2 separate regions of the Homo sapiens genome follow, and region 1 is linked to region 2. The links come from fine-mapping of genetic effects on gene expression. A gene starts in region 2. The other region holds a variant in brackets. All regions are shown on one strand. Distances are from middle to middle. Region 1 has its middle 12 kb from the start of CACNG4. Region 2 holds the start of CACNG1 (calcium voltage-gated channel auxiliary subunit gamma 1).

Region 1 (5,372 bases), 92 kb before region 2:
ATCCCCCTCCTCCCCTCCTCTTTCTGTGTTTTTATTCTGGGGGAGAACTAGAGCTGGTTGCTACAGCAACCAATTTATTTCTGCAAGTGCATTTTAACTTCCCTCAGATGTTCTATTTGATGGGAACTTTTCCCTTCTTGGGGTCTGACTTTTGCAGCATGCTTTCACTAAGCCTGCAAACCCTTCCTTTTCTGCTGCCTTAGGGTTAATACACACATTTACTTAACACAGGGGGGAAAAAAAAACACAAAACACCCAACTTTAAAAACAAGGCATTTGGAAGAGAGAGAAAAACAAAGTAATTACATTTCCAACTCTGCTGTCATATCAAACTTGTAGGATCTCGGGAGCTGCGGCGTTTACCATACAAGTGTTGGTTCTTCTTTACTCCTCTCCTCACCATATAGCTCAGAAAATATATTCATTTACTTTTTCACTCAACGAATAATTTATTGAGCATTTCTGTATGCCAGGCCCTATGCGTTAGGTGGTGGAGTTTCAGAATTGAACAAAACAGACCTGGGTCCCTCCTGGAGTTTGCCAGGTATGAGAAAGACAGGCTGACATGCAAAGACACACTGACATGCAAATCCTGATGTTGATTATGGGGGTGAGAGCTATGAAGAGAGGAGCACGCCATCCAGACTACTGGTCTGGAACAGCCTCTCTGAGAAGGTGATGTTTCAGCTGAGATTGAACTTGAGACTGAACTTGAACTTGAAACCAAGAATTGAGACCTGAGAGAAAGAAGAACTCTCTCTGAGCTGGAAAGGAGCTTGGTAGATTGGAGGGAGGGACAGTGGCCAGTGTGGCAGCCTCTCAGGGAAAAGGGAACCTGAGCTCAAGGTGCAGTTGCAGGTAAGGACCAGATCACATAGGACAGGCCAGGTGTGGGCATTCATATTGACCCTCAGTGCACGGGAAGACTCTCTGACATGGTTTTCAGCAGACAAGTGAAGTAATTGACATTTGCACAGATCCTCTGGCTGCCAAGGAGAGAACGCATTGAGGGAATGTAGGTGGCAATTGTGAAGGAGAAGGACAGTGTCGCTGGAGGAGGGTTTTCCAGGCATCCAGAGGAGAGAAGCAGGTGGCCTGGCCAGGAGGCGGCAGCAAGACAGGGAACAGTGGACAGGGTAGAAATGCATCTTGGACATAACACTGGCAGGATCTGGTGATGAGTTGCCTGTGGTCTGTGGCCTGAGCCACAGGCCAATGGTGGTGCTGTACTGAGATGGAGAAGCTGGAGAAGGAGTAGGTTTGGAAGGAGGAAATAGACTCCATGGCACCTGCCTCCTGCTCAGAAGCCTTGTCATGCAATTCCTCTTTATGCAATTCCCCTTTTGAGTCTGTCTCCCTCTCTGAATGGGAGGTTCCATGAAGGCTGGGGTCACACCTACACAGTTCACTGCTGTATTTTTTTTTTTTTTTTTTTTGAAACAGGGCCTTGCTCCATCACCCAGGCTGGAGTGCAGTGGTGCAATCTCAGCTTACTGCAGCCTGGAACTCCTGGGCTCAAGCCATCCTTTCACCTCGGCCACCCAAAGTGCTGGGACTACAGGCATGAGCCACAGTGCCCAGCCCACAGCTCCATTCTGAGTAGTGCTCACAGTGCCTGGCACCGGAAGGCCCTCGGATAGCCACTGTATTCATTTCCTAGGGTTGCAGTAACTAATTACCGGATGGCTTAAAAAAAAAAAAAGAAACATATTTTCTCACAGTTCTGGAAGTCAGAAGGCTGAAATCCAGGTGCAGATAGGGTTGGTTCCTTGAGGAAGCTCTAGGAAAAACCTGTTCCGCGACTCTCCCTCAGTTTGGGGGCTGTTGGTAGTCTGCGGTGCTCCTGGGCTTGCTGGCACCTTGCTCCAATCTCTGCTTTCTCCTCTGTGTGTCTTTTCCCCTTCTCTCCTAAGGACACTTGTCATTGGACCTAGGGCCTACCCTAATTGAGGATGATCTCATCTCAAGATCTTTAACTTGGTTACAGCTGCAAAAACGCTTTTTCCAAATAAGGCCACATTTGCAGGCTCTGGGCATTAGGACTCAGGCATACTTTTTGGGTGGTCACAATTCAACCCACTTCATCCACCAACTGAGAAAATGAATGAGTGAGTACCCGGCGATTTCTGGTTGATTGGAGAACCAAGTGTAACTCAAACGCTGGGTCAGAGAACAAAGCCCTGGCTTTTCAACCAGCCTTCTGTGGTAGCTGTTTGTATTCACCGCCAGTTTCTCTAAGTTGGTCATTTAGGGATGCGTCCATAACACAGCATGTCAGGTAGGTG[A/G]CTCACAGTGAATAAACTGAAGAGAAGCTGAGTCATAGTTAAAAGCGGACTTAACATTCCAAAGGTGAACAGCAATCCAGCCTCGAGGCTGAAGCCATTCTTATGCCTCTGCCAGCCAAGGCAGAGACAGATAAATAAATACCATCACTGAGCCAGGCGGCACAGCGCGACCTCCAGGCCCGCACCCCTCTCAGGCATCCTGCCTGGCCGGTCTACCTCCTTCCAGAAGCAATGAATATTTCCAGCATGGAGCAGGAGGCAGGTCAACAAATGCTGCTCTAAACATCTTGGTCAAGCTTGCTATGACCTCCCATCCTGCCATACACACCTTAGGTCACAGGCAGCCTCCTCTCCACACTGCCACCCTGCAATGAGGGCCACCCCCTCTGGAAACTACAGGGGGTCAAAAAGTGGGAGGTTTGTCTGTGTGCCCCACAATCCAGGCAGAGAGGTCCAGGGCAGAGGGGACCTTTGAGGGGTACATGGCACCCTTCGAAGGCCTCAGAACACGTCTGCCTTTACAAGCTGACCACAGCCACCAACACTTAGTCTTAGGAACCCGACTTCTCTCTACCTATGAAGGTTTTCTGCAAGGTTTTGTCTCCTAGAGACCCTGCCCCATCCCAGGCCCTGCCCGGCTGACCATCCCCCCCTCCAGTATGAAGAGTCTGCCTGTCCTGATCCAAGACAGGCAAGGACCAGACCCTGGAGGAAGGCAAGTGACATTGCAGGGGGACAAGCAGAAAAGTGTCTGAGGAGCCCAAAGGCCAGGCTCTCCTGGGACTGAGAGCAGCAGCTCCGGCTCCAGGAACACACAGGGATGCACATGGCAGGAACTGGGGCTGTCACGAGCAAGGCCAAGTGCTCTCCCTGGGTGCTGAGTTTCTTTGATCACCAGACCTGAGAAGGGCCCTTTTCCACAGGGGCCTTGGGACTCCTGACTGCTGCCTCAGCATGAAAGTGTCCTGTCTCCCCAGCTGAGCCCCTCTCTGGGAGGCAGGTCCCCATCCCCTGGGCCTTCCTGCTGGGGTGTGCTGCTCTCCCCACATTGTGTGGGCACCAGCACTATCCACTTAGCACCTCAACCCCCCGGGGCCTCTTCACTCGTCTCCCAGGGGCTCCCCTAAAAGCTACTTGCTCCTGAGCTCCAATTGTAATCAAGTCCCAAAGCAGCTGGGTTTAAAGACACAATTATGCATTATGGATAAAGGGCAGGTCACCCTCCCCCGCCAGCCAGCTGGGCATCTGTGCTTGCCCCACGGCTCCCATCAGAGGCTCCAGCAGGCCTGTCCCTCCCCTGGGCACACAGAGCAAGCCAAGGCGCCCCTTGGTGCCCGCAGTCCCAGGAGCCGAGCACGGGGCTCCTGGCTGCAGCCGCAGAAAGGCCCTCTTGCTGGGATCCCACTACAAATTGATGAACGCTAATGACCTGCTTCCTCCATCTGGTACCACAATCATGAAGATGCTCCCAAACGCTGGGAGTTGGGGGGTATTCTTTTTTTCTTTTCCTTTTTGCCTTTTTTTCAAATATTTATGAAGAGATTTTCCATTTATCCTGACACGTCTTCTCCACCGTGGGTGTCAGCTAGGAGGGCTCAGACAACAAACTCCAGAAGGTATTTTCCCCAAAGCAGCATCTGGCTCCGTTGGCAAGTACAGCGGGTGGTTTGCTGGGAATTGGCCGAGGAAGAGGGAGGAGGAGCCACAGGCTGGCAGCCTCCGGTCCTGGCTCTGTGATGCTCCCAGGGATGGGGCTGGAGCATCCCAAGAGAGCAGCCAGGATACAGGACCTCACAGGCACCCCCACCAGCCTCTCTCTCACTCTCACCCTTCAAGTCTTCTGGTCTGATGCCAAAGCTCCCCAGCTCCCCAGGTAAACCACCTGGGTGGTGACCAGTTCTCCACGGCAGCCTCTAAGAGTCTTCTTCAGCGACAATTCCCAGTGGGACAAGTTGGTAAAGGAGAGGGTGCTGGCTTGGCCCCTGCATCTCAAGCTCTCCCCTCCCAGGAAGCCTTCTAAAGGCAGAGCCAGAGGCCTCCCTCATTCTCCCTGATGGGCATTTCCCACCTTTGGGGACAGTGTGACCCACACCGGGGACAGAGAGAGTTGGCTGGGCAGCAGGGCTAGAGGTAGCAATAAGAACCTTATGGAATCTCCCAGGTCACACCAGCTTAACTGCTGTCTTCTGTACTCACTGTGGCAGAGCCAGCCAAATGGATCCAGGAACCCCCAGCCCCACATTCCTTGATAGTTACCAGAGTCTGAGCCAGGCTGTATCTGCCAAAGATGAATTCTGGTGAAAATCAAACACTTTCCAGGAGATCTTGGGTCCAAAGGCATCATGGCTTTGTGCCCTTGATCTTGCCTGGGCTGCCCATCAGCAACCACTGGGGAGCTTCAAAAAATATCAATGCCCAGCCCCACTCCAGCATGGTCAGAATACCTGAGAGTGGGGCATATATTTCTAAAATCTCCCAAGTCATTGCCAAGGGCATCCGGGGTTGAAAACTATTGAGCTATGGGAAGACTATGTCCCCTGGACACAGGCAGTCCTAGACTGGAGTCCTTGCTCTTTCACTTACTTGCTGTGACCTGGAATCAGTTACTTGCCTTCCCAAAGCCTCAGTTGCACCATCTCTAAAATGGGGATAACAACATTTTTCTTGTCCTAGGGTGCCCAGCACATGTAACTGTTTAACAAAGTCAAGCTGCTATTAATCATCTTCCATCACGAACCCATCTTCCAGGACAAGAGACTGCTGGTGTTGAGTATGCAGAGCAGCCCAGCAAGGCAGCCGGCCAGGCAGCTGCTTCCAGCCATGCACAGAACTGGGACCTTGGAACTGTTACCTCCCTTACCTGCAGAACAGCCTCAAGGTCTCACCTCTGGGTACCAAGGCTGCAAGAGGGCAATTCAGTCCTTACCTCTGGGTACCAAGGCTGCAAGAGGGCAATTGAGTCATGGGCCATACCACTCCCCAGGTGATGACACTCCCAACAGATACAGCACCAGTCAAAGAATATCTCTCTGAGGCCGGGTGCGGTGGCTCACACCTGTAATCCCAGCACTTTGGGAGGCTAAGGTG
Region 2 (5,372 bases):
GCAGAGGCCATCAATCTTTAATGCTTTCACTGCACTGGGGCGGAGGACTCTGGACCCCTGCATGGGGCACAAACCTGCCCCCCATGGAGGGAAAGAGCAGCAGAAGTTCCTGGTTGCTGTCCTCACCAAGGCCTGGCATCTTTGAAGGGCCTGCAATGTCATCATGGCTGGCGCTGGGTGCACCCTCTGGGCTGGGCCCTTTCAGGGTGCTTTCCAAGGCCGTCAGAGGCTCTTGGCACCGAAGAGCTTAGGGCATCCACCCCCACCACACCAGGAAATTCAAAAGACACTTTCATTTTTCCAATGACACTGTATTTACTTGTAATGCTAAAATTAAATAGCTTCTTTCTAGATTTTCTGTCTTAAAACACTGGAACCCTCTTCTGGCTCCCCAGCTACTGCTTTGCTGGGTGCCTGGCACTCAGTAGGTCTAATCAAGCTGTACAGCACCTCCTGAGATCCCCAGGTGCCAGGATCCTGAAGCTGGGCCCCCACAAACAACAAGAGAGGGCTCAGAGGCTGCAGCCATGTCCCAGCTTCTGGGAATTCCCCATGGAGATGGTCTACCCACCTGGTGACAGGCAGTTTCTCCACGAGCTGAAGCAGGGGCGGTGGCATATGTCAACAGTCAGTCAGTGATCAGTCAGTTGTGATGGATTAGCACCCACAGGGAACACAGAGGTGGGGGGACAGGGAGGAAGGGAAGCAGAGATGAGAACAGTGGGGAGATAAGCTCTCAGGAGATTGTAATATGTATGAGAGACTGATTTTAAAAATATGGAAGTTTGGATGGAACTGCAATAAGCACAAGCCAGTGGCTGGAGATGCGAGGGTTCAGCTCAGCCCTGGGGCTGTTCACCAGGTAGTCCTGGCTCCTCACATCTCCTCTCTGGGCTGCAGATTCCTAATCTGTCACAATAGATCATGAAGTTTCTTCCCAGTTCCAACCATTCGTTATGACTTTGGGCTCTGGGTCCTGAAACCTGGATTCCTCATTTTCTCGCTGTGTGACCTTGGACAAGTGACTTCATGTCTCTGAGCTTCCATGTCCTTGTCTGTGAAATGGCAGTAACCGTTGTAGTCCCCTTGTGGATTGGTGTGAAGAGTAACTGTGACAATGGATGAAGGCTTAGCAGGGTACCTGGTAGATAGTAAGCACTCACTGAAGATGAGCCACTGTTCTGATTATCATCATCATGAACTTTCTGTGATTCTAAGGCTGGAGGCCGAAACATTTCTGTCCACATGGGCAGAGTCTCTGTAAATCGTGTCAATCTGAGGCCAGGATTTTGAAGCTCAAGGCCCCACCCAGCTCAGGAGGCTATTCCTGGTCATGCGTCAGCCTCTCGGCTACACCCAAAAAGGGCCACCCTGTGAGCCGAGAAGGAAGAGATGACACAACCCAGGAGAGATGTAGAGGCTGGAGCCTCGGAGACCAGCCTGGGGGCCAGGCGGGTGCACAGGACCGTCGGAGGGTGGTCGATCCCGGGCTTTCTGTGTTCTCTGCACGCCCATGAGCTCCTAATGATCCCCTATAAATCAACCTATTCATTCTTTTTTACTCACACACTTATTTTTCAAATTCAAACATAACTGGAAAGTCGTTATCACCTGCTGTTAATAGAAGGCAAAACCAAACAGTGCCCTGAAAAACAGAATGACCAAGTCCAGCAGGATTCCTCGTCCTCTTCGGGCCGTTCTCGCTTTGTTTCAAAGGACACTTTACAGGCAATAATGACACTGACCTCGAACAGAGCTTTGCTCTGGACCCAGTTTTGGGGATGGAAAGAGAATTGAAAAGGAAGTAATGTTCTCGTGGAGGGATCAGAGTTGGGTAAGGCCAGACCTGGGAACCACCTAAAACCTTCCTATGGTTTGGGGGATGCCGTGGGGTTTGTGGCTAAAACGCTTGCCTAAGAGGTGGACTCCACAGGCCCTGGACTGGGTTCCCGGGATGTCATTAGACAGAATCCTAGCCCCTCAGATCCCAGGATGAGAACCTACTCACTGCCCTGCCGGTAACAGGCTTACCCCGTGGGAGCCCGGGACAGCCGTGCAGCCCGCAGCTCCTGGTCTCCTCCCCTGGCCTGGGCTGCCCTTTCCCATCAGCCCAGAGCAGGCAGATCCCCACCCCCGGGGCCCTGCTGCCCACCTCTCGCCCTCTCCCAACTCAGGCACCCTGAGCTGCTACTCACAGAGGCCTCAATCTACCATCCAGAGCCTTCTCTCCTTGCCACCCTGCCCCGCCGCACTGGGGTATTTCTGGCTCCCAGAGGGGCAGAAAACCCTGAAACCCGAGCAGAAGCTGTCCTCGGTGCCACGCCTGGAGATGGGCATTAATAGCAGCCTCCCTCAGGCCCCTGACGCGTCTGGGCAGCTGCTCAGCACGTCCCGCGTCCCTCGGCCCCAAGGCCAGCCCACTCTGGCTCAGCCAGGCACACTAAACTTAGTGGCCACTCCCAGCTCGACAACCACTGCCACCCCCCAAGCTCGGCTTGTCACCTGCCCTAGGAGACGCAGCCGCCGGACCCTGCCCAGGGCACCCACGCCTCGGCGACCACCATGTCCCAGACCAAAATGCTGAAGGTCCGCGTGACCCTCTTCTGCATCCTGGCAGGCATCGTGCTGGCCATGACAGCCGTGGTAACCGACCACTGGGCTGTGCTGAGCCCCCACATGGAGCACCACAACACTACCTGCGAGGCGGCCCACTTCGGCCTCTGGCGGATTTGTACCAAGCGCATCCCCATGGACGACAGCAAGACCTGCGGGCCCATCACCCTGCCCGGGGGTAACGTACCCACCCTCCGTCCCGATCCCCACCTCCTGCTCTTCCCCGTCATCCCCCTGGCAAAGTTGCCCTTGCGAAGGAAGGCAGGTTTCTCTGCCTAGAAATAGGGCAGCCGCCCAGCCTTTTCTGCCCAGGGAAGAAGATATGAATTGCATGTGTGGTGCTGGTGGCTGGGGCTGGGTTGTAAGACGAGGGCGTTTGTCCCAGCTATTTCTGTCTGGCTGGACCTTGGGGCTTTTTGCCCAGAGCAGAGAGCTGGGCAGGCTCAAGAAAGGAACTGCAGCTCTACCAGCCCAGGGACTTCTGGGCCCCACCTGCTCACTCTCTCCCTGCAAAGAAAAGCTAGGTGGCTCTGTGTCCTCAGGCTAGGGGGACCCATGGGGCTGGCAGGTTTGTTCCTGGCCTCAAGGCAGGAGAGGAGAGAGCATAGGCGATGGAATTTGCAGGGTCCTGTGCAGAATGAAAATGCAGGGTTCCTTGCTCCAAATTACCAAGGATTTCAAGGCAGTGACAGCAGCACATGAAACCACACATGGGCCCTTGTGGGCTCTGGGCCTGGAGCAGCTGCACAGGTTGAATGTCTGTGAAGCAGGACATGGCTGTAGGCTGTAGGTGAGCCACCTGCCCCCACCTTCTTTTTTTTTTTTTTTTTTTTTTTGAGACAACTTTGTCGCTCAGGCTGGAGTGCAGTGGCATGATCTTGGCTCCCTGCAACTTCTGCCTCCTGGACTCAAGCGATTCTCCTGCCTCAGCTTCCCCAGTAGCTGGGATTACAGGCATGCACCACCACACCCATCTAATTTTTGTACTTTCAGTAGAGACGGGGTTTCACCATGTTGGTCAGGCTGGTCTCGAACTCCTGACCTCAGGTGATCCACCTGCCTTGGCCTCCCAGAGTGCTGGGATTACAGACGTGAGCCACCATGCCCGACCTCCACCTGTCCTTTTGTCAGGACTTCAGTCCTCTATGCATCCTGTCTTAGCTCAGACCCTGTCAGAGTTACAAAGCATTTCCTCACCCTGTAATTTAAGCGTATTCCTCGATTTCCTACCGTGTGACCGAACCACACGTTGAAGGTAAGGTCCTTTTCAGGAGTACCTGGTAGTCGCGTGACTAGCCTCTATTCTGCAAATGCAGAGGCTTCTGGATTCTTAGCAAATACAGCACTTTAGAGGAAAGAGTGCTCATGGAGACCAGGCAGCCAGGGATCTAATCGCCATTGCCCACTACCCTCAAATGACCATCCAGGGAGGACAAAGCTCATCTCAGCCTCTGCTTCTTCCTCTATAAAATATGGGACTGACTCTCAGCAACGTGAGATCCCTTCCTCGGCTTACAGACGCCCATCCACAGTGGCAGTGGAGCAGAGTGATGTCAGTGTGATGTCCCACCTGGTTTTCAGGATTATTTCCTCTTTTATCAGACTAGGTGTTCCTTGAAACCTGTCCTTCAAGGACACTAGGGCTAAGTCCCCAAAGATCTTGCAGTCTGCTTGTGAGGCAAAGAGCACAGACCCCATCCTCCCTTGTCTCTGCTCCCTCTTCCTTCCCTCCTGCTTGCTCCAGAGATCCCCTCCCTTGTTCAGCCCCACTGGAGGCCCAGAAGACTCATAAGTGCCCAGCTGTTGTAGAAACACCAAGTCCCAGGGCTGAGAGTGACAGGTGTGGCCATGTGCTTGCAGGGTATCGCATAGCCCGGATGCCCATGCCCCTTGGCCACTGCTGAGCACACCCATAAACAGGAACAGCCTCCAGCCAACTCCCCTGGGCAGGGCAGGGCAGGGCAGGGCAGGGCAAGGCAGCTTCTTCAGGGACCACACATGGGGACGTGCTGTTACAGTCCTGTTCACCCGTCCTTGGAACCATCTGCCTTTTAAAGTCAGAGCAGAAGACTGGGCAGTGAGCAGAATCCACACAAGGAAGAGACAGGCTGGTGAGAGGTGACTGGACCAATTGCAGGGGGCCAACAGGCATTGCTTGGCCTTGAGCCTGACAGGATCTACCTCTTTGCCTTCTTAGCCTAACCAGCTATGAACCACACCTCCCACACTTGTGACACTGAGCACTACCTTTCCCCCAGTAATCTTCCAAAATATGTTCCTGCCTTTTTCCCTCTCTTTTCTCTGCAAATGGACATCTTTCTCCTTCCCCATCTGCCCTTCTTGTGCTCCCTGGGACCACTCTTCTCTGGAGGGAGGAAGTGGGTTCATATGTGGCCCGTCATCTATTATTAACAACAATAATAATAATGGCACATACATGTAGCCCTGTGTGCCAAATATTGTTGTAAACGCTTTACATATATTAACTTTGAAAGACATCAGGAAAAAAAATGATAGAAAAAGAACCTCCAAAAATAATCTTCTCCATAATAGTAATGAGAAGGCTGGCAGAAATGGTCAGAATCAACATTTTCAGAACTCTGGAAATTAACCAAAGTCTTGCAGCAATCCAGCAAGAAAAATGGGTGAATCTCAGGAGGACCAGTGAGTTCTGTGGTGTTTTAACTTGCCTTATTCCTGTTTCCCTTTCCCAGCTCTGTGGTAACCTTGCAAACCAACATTCCGTAATCACAGTGAAA

The links. PIP is the estimated chance that this variant, and not a neighbour inherited with it, causes the effect. A credible set is the group of variants that fine-mapping cannot tell apart.
Region 1: its variant is the best candidate, but not a certain one, in a credible set for the expression of CACNG1 in lung (TOPMed, PIP 0.81).

What each region holds. Positions count from the first base shown.
Region 1 is chr17:66,949,884-66,955,255 of GRCh38, forward strand. No RefSeq gene overlaps it. Among named protein-coding and RNA genes, the nearest start is that of CACNG4, 12 kb to the right of the region's middle. The variant A/G (reference allele first, on the strand shown) is at 2,286.
Region 2 is chr17:67,042,099-67,047,470 of GRCh38, forward strand. It overlaps CACNG1 (calcium voltage-gated channel auxiliary subunit gamma 1), which reads left to right and starts at 2,456. Exons shown (of 4, transcript NM_000727.4): 1 at 2,456-2,791. The coding sequence starts at 2,563.